Linked DNA regions of Homo sapiens. The protein of the gene in region 2 purifies or fractionates together with the protein of the main gene of each other region. This does not show direct contact. Each region holds a gene or a part of one and is shown on either strand. Other genes may lie near its edges.

Region 1 (4,082 bases), on a different chromosome or scaffold from region 2:
TGGGGGTCTCGCTGTGTTGCCCAGGCTGTCCTTGAACTCCTGGCCTCAAGGGATCCTCCCAGCTCACCCTCCCAAAATGCTGGGAATACAGGCATGAGCCACCGCAATGGCCCATTTCTTTATGTAGTCTTCCAGCTGTTCAGCCAACACTTAACTCTGAACCAACTGCCAGTCTTTCAATCTACTAGTGACCTGAAAGCCTTTCCTGGCTGACCCAACATATACTTCCCATGTATTGATTTATGTCTTTGCCTGTAACTACTGTCTCCCTAAGATGCATAAAACCAAGCTGTAACCCAACTACTTTGGGCTCACGTTCTCAGGACCCCCTGAGGCTGTGTCACCAGCCATGGTCACTCAAATAGGAGGCCCAGAATAAAACTCTTTATAGACTTTGACTCTTTTTGGTCAACATAACCTAACCCTAAACATAATCCTCCTGGGGAAGGTAGGATCACAGGTATCTCTTCCTCGTTCAGTTTGTGTGTGTATGTCCTTATTTCTCTACGGTTTTTAGGCATTCGCTGTGTGATCTAGAAAAGCTATGGAGTCTCGCTTTGTCGCCAGGATGGAGTGCAGTGGCGTGATCTCGGCTCACTGCAACCTCCACCTCCCAGGTTCAAGTGATTCTCCTGCCTTAGCCTCCCGAGTAGCTGGGATTACAGGCACGCGCCACCACGCCCAGCTAATTTTTGTATTTTTAGTAGAGACAGGGTTTCATCATGTTGGCCAGGATGATCTCTATCTCTTGACCTCGCGATCTGCCCGCCTCGGCCTCCCAAAGTGCTGGGATTACAGGCTTGAGCCACTGCGCCCAGCTACAAATTCTATTTTCTTTTTGTTCCTTGGAAAGCATCGCTGGGCATTTATCCTGTCCCAGTATTTGAGTGAAACTTCTCAGCATTTCAGAGCAGTGACCATGATACACCCTTTCCTTTCCTTCTCCTTATGGGAAACTCCGTTCTAACCCAGAGGACTTGGGCTCCAGGACCCAGTAACGGAGCCCTGGATTTGACCCTAAAAGGGAGTAAAGACAAAGGTGAAGTTCAGTCCGGGGTTCAGGGCTGCCAAAGCTCATAGCCTGGAGCTTCTTAACCTTTAGGCAGGGTAGAGACATTTAAGACGGCCCCAAAACTGGGGGAGCGCGTAGGCTCCTGGGAAATAGAGTCCGTTACTTGTCCTGGGACCCGCGGTGGGTGTCCCGGGAGGCGGACTTCCGGTGCACTCCTGCGCTTGTGCACCTCTCCCTGCGTGCGTGTTCGCACATGCGCGCCACCTCCGCACTGCCCTCGCTTCCTGTGCCTCTTCAGGTCATCGCTTGCTCTCGTTCCCAGGCTTTGGCTTCTAGTGGACGAGAATCACCGAGTCTGCGGGGCTGGATGCTGACCGCCCGGACCAGCACCTAGGCGGGCGGGAGCTGTGCGGCCCAGGGTTCGCGCGGGCCGGGTAGAGGCTCGAGCTGGGACCCCCGAGCGTGAACCCCGGAGCCGGCGGCGCTGGGGCCAGAGGGGCCGGGAGCCCCAGGGAGGCGGATCTGGGCCCCGAGAAGGACACCCGCCTGGATTTGCCCCGTAGGCCCGGCCCGGGCCCCTCGGGAGCAGAACAGCCTTGGTGAGGTGGACAGGAGGGGACCTCGCGAGCAGACGCGCGCGCCAGCGACAGCAGCCCGCCCCGGCCTCTCGGGAGCCGTGGGGCAGAGGCTGCGGAGCCCCAGGAGGGTAAGTCTTGGGTTTTTGGGCCCGGAGCGAGAAGGGCCTGGGTGAAGTCACCTTGTGTTGGGGACCTTTGAGTGTGGGGCAGAGGGAGGGTCCCGATTGCTTGCCGGAGAGACATGTGTTGGGTTTGAGGGCAGGGTCCGGCTGCACCGAACAGGTGCTGCATGGGAAGATCTGGGAGGACGAGGCTTACGGAGGCGTGGAGGGTGTCACCACCCTCAGCTGCGGACGTCGTCTCCACTCCCCGCTAACCCCTAACAGTCCTTCCTCCTCCTCTCCGTGCTCCAGATTTCGACCGCCTCTAAACGTCCGTCAGCACTTCTATTCTCTCACTTAAGTGTCTGCTGATCCCCCCCCTTAGACCTGCCCTGGGAGAATCGTAGTAATGCAGGAACAGTCTGCAGGGATTCTCTGCTGCTGCCTCAGTTGCTAGGGGAAGAGACTGGGCCTTAGGTGGGTGACTTGACCAGGTCACCGGCTTTGTGGGTAGAGCTGCTCATAGTAGAACCCAGGAGACTTATCTCCCAGGCCAGTGTTCTTTCTCCCGTATCCTAGTTTTCTTAATAGAAGATTATTAGGTGCAGCAATAACCAAGTTCAGTTAGATAATTTAGAAACAAAACCATATTTTATACACATTCATTTCATTTCTGAGAGCTCACATACTCAATTCCTATGGCTTATTTTATTTTAAGCAGTTTAAAGAGACAATAAGAAAATGCGGGCGGGATGCAGTGGCTCACACCTGTAATCCGAGCATTTTGCGGGGCTAGGGCAAGAGTATCCCTTGAGACCAGGAGTTAGAGACCAGCCTAGACAACATGGGGACACCCTGACTACAAAAAATACAAAAGTCGCCAGGCATGCTGGGATGCATCTGTGGTCCCAGCTACTCAGGAGGCTGAAGTGGGAGGATGGATGGAGCCCAGGAGGTCGAGGCTGCAGAGAGCCGTGAATGCACCACTGCACTCCAGCCTGGGTGGCAGATTGAGACCCTGTCTCAACCAACAAACCACAAAAAACATGAGCCGTATAATGGGAATTTTTTTTCTTTTTGCGCCTTGTATTTGATGATGATGGCAGACTATTTGTAAAAGGAGTCATGTTACCCATGAGAGTCTAACTCATCTAATTACTACCTGATTATCTTAGAGTTACAGGCGCATGCTTCCCCTATCACTCTTTTTTTTTTTTTTTTTTTTTTTGAGACAGTGTCTCTCACCCAGTCTGGAATGCAACAGCGTGGTCTCGGCTCACTGCAACTTCCACCTCCCAGGTTCAAAGGATTCTCGTGCCTCAGCCTCCTGAGTAGCTGGGACTACAGGCATGTGACTCTATGCCTGGCTAATTTTTTTTGTTATTTTTAAGTAGAGACGGGGTTTTGCCATGTTGGCCCAGGCAGGCGGATCACTTGAGGCCAGAATTTGAGACCAGCCTGGCCAACATGGTGAAACCCTGTATCACTCTTTTAGACCCTTCTGAGTGTTTGCAGGTTGAGTGTTCACAGGGTGTTAGCCTATTGAGCTTTCTTTTGCGGTTCTTATGCAGGTGATTTCTGCCTTTGCAGGCCGGAGCCCTCATGACTTCAGTGACCTGCTTCTGCCCCTCTAGGTCTATCAGCCACAGTCTCTGCATGTTTCCAAGAGCAGCAGAAAATGAACACATTGCAGGTGAGTTTTCCTGCTTGTGTATATGTTCCTCAACTTTATTTTATGATGCATTTTAAGAGGTTTGTAAGGATTCATACTTTTTTTTTTCTTTTTTTTGAGATGGAGTCTTGCTCTGTTGCCCAGGCTGCAGTGCAGTGGCATGATCTCGCTTCACTGCAACCTCCACCTCCTGGGTTCAAGTGATTCTCCTGCCTCAGCCTCCTGAGTAGCAGGGATTACAGGCGTGGGCCACCATGCCCAGCTAATTTTTTGTATTTTTAGAAGAGATGGGGTTTCACTATGTTGGCCAGGTTGGTCTCAAACTCCTGACCTCAGGTGATCCTCCCGCCTCAGCCTCCCAAAGTGCTGGGATTACAGGCATGAGCCACCGAGCCCAGCCAGGATTCATACTTTAAAATGGGAATGTGGAAATAGACATTATCCTGTAAAATATAGTTAGTGTGGCAGATCAGCACCAAAAATGATTTGTGAAGCTTGTATGTATGGGTAGTATATTTTAAGGCTGTTGAAATTGAGCCGCACCTAGGACTGATACTCTTGGCAGTCATCACAAAAGGAAAATGCCATCTGTATTAGTCCATTCTCACACTGCTATAGAGAAATAACCAAGACTGGGTAATTTATAAAGAAAAGAGGTTTAATTGGCTCACGTCTGCAGGCTCTATCATAGGAAGCGTGGCTGAGGAGTCCTCAGGAAA
Region 2 (4,145 bases):
CTTGTTTTCTCAGCTACTACAATATGCTGCTTCTGGTTAGATATATTTGTAGTACTGCAATTATTTATTTATTTATGAGACAGGGCTTGCTCTTGTCATCCAGGCTGGAGTGCAGTGGCGCCATCTCAGCTCACTGCAACCTCCACCTCCCGGGTTCAAGCGATTCACCTGCCTCAGCCTCCGGAGTAGCTGGGATTACAGGTGCGTGCCATCACACCCAGCTAATTTTTGTATTTTTAAGTAGAGATGGATTTCACCATGATGGCCAGGCTGGTCTCGAACTCCTGACCTCAGATCATCCGCCCAAGTCAGCCTCCCAAAGTGCTGGGATTAGAGGCGTGAGCCATCGCGCCCGGCCTGCATTTTAAATTAAGGAACTGATTCTACCTCTGCCAGGCAGTTCCCTCAACTAGAAACCTCTTCCCCGTCTACATAACTCCCTGATCTCCTTCAAGTCCTTGTTTAAATGTCACTTTCACAACGAGTACTATCCTGACTGCCCAGATCAAAATTGCAACCTGACCCTCATCCGTTATACCCCGCTGTGCTTTTTTCATAGCATGTATTTAGTATATCATATAGTTTTCGGATTCACCATATGCTTCTGTTCTCCTCCAACACATGAGCCCCACTAGGTCACGGGTTTTTAAATCTGTCTTGCTAACTGACGCATCTTAGCCAAAAAAAAAAAAAAAAAAGTCCTGGCACAAACTACGTGCTCAATACCTATCTGTGGAACAAACGAAGGTTTAAAACCATGGCATGACTCCGCATTGCTTTCTTACTTTAAAGCATAAACATACATACACACATGGGAGACAGGGAGAGGATATTTCAAAATGTTAATGGTGATTTCAAGTGATTTTTTTTCCTTCTTTATGTTTTCCTCTATGTTTTCCTGTTATGTTTATGTTTCCTGTGGTTTTATACCCCAAATTCTACGTGAAAATGTATTCTCTTACCATGAGAAAATTGCTTTTGAAAACGTCTCTCTAAACCTAGAGTAACGTGCATTGCCGCGCAGAGTGAATTGGTTTTGCTGTAAATCTCATGAAGCCGTTTTCCTGCATGAAACACAGTAAAAAAAAAAAAAAACTGGAGTGGTATTGACGACCTTTAAAAAAAAAAGATTGTTCTGAAATCATCGCTTGGTGTTTTGCAGTGGTTAAATGTTTATTAAAGGAATAAAAATCCATTCCTCCTTGGCGGACCGCGGCGTCCCTAGGGAACACACCCACCTAGCAACCGAGACCAGAGCTGGAGCGCTGCGCCTTTAATTCTGGGGCGGGCGGGGGGCGGCGGGAATTTCTGCTCCGGTTCCCTCTGCATCGCGGGGGCAGCTGTCACCTGTAAGGCGAGCGCGGCGCGGGGGATGGAAGCAGGCGCCCATTGGACAGAATACAAAGGCAGAAACCTACCCCGAAGGCCGGGGCCCGGCGGGGCGCTGGGGGTGGGCGCTCCCCGCGGCCCCCGGCGCCCTTCGCCCCGAGACGCCCCGGCCCAGCGGCACTGGCGCGACCGAGGTCCAGCTTCGGGGACACGCCCGGCTGGCCGCGGGGAAGGCACCAGGTGAGCGCGGCCGCGCCTCCCGGAACCCCGCTCCCGCGCGTCCCGCGGCGACGCGGCGCCCACCCGCCCCGGGAGCCAGGAACCCAGGGCCCCACCATGGCGCTGGCCGCCGCCGCCGCCGCTGCGGCTGCCGGGGTGAGCCAGGCGGCGGTGCTGGGCTTCCTGCAGGAGCACGGCGGGAAGGTGCGCAACTCCGAGCTGCTGAGCCGCTTCAAGCCGCTGCTCGATGCCGGCGACCCGCGGGGCCGCGCCGCCCGCAGGGACCGCTTCAAGCAGTTCGTCAACAACGTGGCGGTGGTGAAGGAGCTCGACGGCGTCAAGTTCGTGGTGCTGAGGAAGAAGCCCCGGCCCCCGGAGCCCGAGCCCGCACCCTTCGGCCCCCCGGGGGCAGCGGCCCAGCCGTCGAAACCCACTTCGACGGTCTTGCCGCGGAGCGCCTCTGCCCCGGGAGCTCCGCCCTTGGTCCGGGTGCCGCGGCCAGTGGAGCCGCCAGGGGACCTGGGTCTGCCAACAGAGCCACAGGACACCCCGGGGGGGCCGGCCTCCGAGCCCGCTCAGCCGCCCGGGGAGCGGTCCGCCGACCCACCGCTTCCAGCCCTTGAGCTAGCCCAGGCCACCGAGAGACCCTCCGCAGACGCGGCCCCACCGCCTAGGGCCCCTTCTGAGGCGGCATCGCCCTGCTCTGATCCGCCAGACGCGGAGCCCGGGCCCGGGGCAGCGAAAGGGCCGCCGCAGCAGAAGCCCTGTATGCTGCCGGTGCGCTGCGTCCCGGCCCCCGCCACGCTCCGCCTCCGGGCGGAGGAGCCCGGCCTGCGCCGGCAGCTGTCGGAGGAGCCGAGCCCGCGGAGCTCCCCTCTGCTGCTGAGGCGGCTCTCGGTGGAAGAGTCCGGTCTGGGCCTCGGCCTGGGCCCGGGCCGCTCCCCGCACCTGAGGCGCCTGTCGCGCGCCGGCCCGCGTCTGCTGAGCCCTGACGCCGAGGAGTTGCCCGCCGCGCCGCCGCCGTCCGCGGTGCCCCTGGAGCCGTCCGAGCACGAGTGGCTCGTGCGGACTGCCGGGGGCCGCTGGACCCACCAGCTGCACGGGCTGCTGCTGCGCGACCGCGGCTTGGCGGCCAAGCGCGACTTCATGTCTGGCTTCACGGCCCTGCATTGGGCCGCCAAGAGCGGCGACGGCGAGATGGCGCTGCAGCTGGTGGAGGTCGCGCGGCGCAGTGGCGCACCAGTCGACGTGAACGCACGCTCCCACGGCGGCTACACGCCGCTGCACCTGGCTGCACTGCACGGCCACGAGGACGCTGCCGTGCTGCTGGTGGTGCGTCTGGGTGCCCAGGTGCACGTGCGTGATCACAGCGGGCGTCGCGCCTACCAGTACCTGCGGCCCGGCTCCTCGTACGCGCTGCGCCGCCTTCTTGGCGATCCAGGCCTGCGAGGCACCACGGAGCCAGATGCGACCGGTGGTGGAAGTGGCAGTCTTGCTGCCAGGCGCCCCGTACAGGTGGCCGCCACCATCCTCAGTTCCACCACCAGTGCATTTCTGGGCGTCCTGGCTGACGACCTCATGCTCCAGGACCTGGCCCGAGGCTTGAAGAAGTCGAGCTCCTTCAGCAAGTTCTTGAGCGCCTCGCCCATGGCTCCACGTAAAAAGACAAAGATCCGCGGTGGTCTGCCAGCCTTCTCAGAAATCTCTCGTCGACCTACTCCGGGGCCTTTAGCTGGTCTAGTGCCCAGTTTGCCTCCAACAACCTGAAGGTCCCTGGGGCTACCACCTGGTTGATCTATCGTGGCCTGCTCGTCGCAGTCCAAACCCGCCCAAGACTGCAGCCCAATCAACGCCTGGAGCCTCATTCTGTTTCCAGCTTTGTCCAGGGCAGCCTGTTTTACCCAGATGGGCCTGCACCTCCAGCTTCTTTCTGAAGCATGACCCATCTCCAGAGATGGGATTTGAGAAATCAGTGAGAGCTTCCTATAAAGAACTCCAGGAGACAGGCCTGAACTCTAGAGGGAACTTGAAATCCAGGGTCAAAGGTTAAGGGGCAGCAGCTGGTCTGGCCCCTGAAAGCCTTCACCTGATGCCTCTGCAGCTACACAATCCCAAGACAGAGCTAGAGCAAGGGTCTCTTTAAATGTTGAAAGATGTTAGGTTGTCAGCTTTAAGATATGTGGTGGTTTTGTAATTTGATGCTTTTATTCTGTTTTTAAATTGAAATGAGGTAATGCAACTTTCGTAATAACCTTTTGGAATTATATTTTTCCACTTTTAGGCAAAGTGCTTAGACATTTTCAATTTTTTTTTTGCTAAATACTTTGGAATTCTATTTAAAAAATAGATGATCAAGATCTAAAGGAAATTAATCCCAACCAACAAACTTAAAAGTTTATCTACCTCGTTTTAGGCAATCAAGATTCTGGAGAGTCTTGAACACAGAATAACGATTGTGACCATTATGAATGTAACTAATTTCAGTTGTACTGTGAATGCTAAATATTTGCAAACAAGTACATCTTGAAAGTAAAGGTGACTTAGAGAAAAGAGACATTTTGACAGATACTTTTAATTTGTGGTTGTCTCCATCATGA

What was found. Proteins that work in one complex are often made in the same cells at the same time.
Region 1: the proteins of SOWAHA (region 2) and POM121C purify together in Homo sapiens (affinity purification with mass spectrometry, with the first as the bait; one large-scale study listed by BioGRID). This does not show direct contact.

Annotation. Positions count from the first base shown.
Region 1 is NC_000007.14:75,483,500-75,487,581, reverse strand, and holds the start of POM121C (nuclear envelope pore membrane protein POM 121C), read left to right. Parts: upstream 1-1,282; 5' UTR 1,283-1,718; intron 1,719-3,262; exon of another isoform or gene 3,263-3,384; intron 3,385-4,082. UniProt on the Homo sapiens protein: Essential component of the nuclear pore complex (NPC). The repeat-containing domain may be involved in anchoring components of the pore complex to the pore membrane. When overexpressed in cells induces the formation of cytoplasmic annulate lamellae (AL).
Region 2 is NC_000005.10:132,811,957-132,816,101, forward strand, and holds the start of SOWAHA (ankyrin repeat domain-containing protein SOWAHA precursor), read left to right. Parts: upstream 1-1,345; 5' UTR 1,346-1,665; coding exon 1,666-3,315; 3' UTR 3,316-4,145.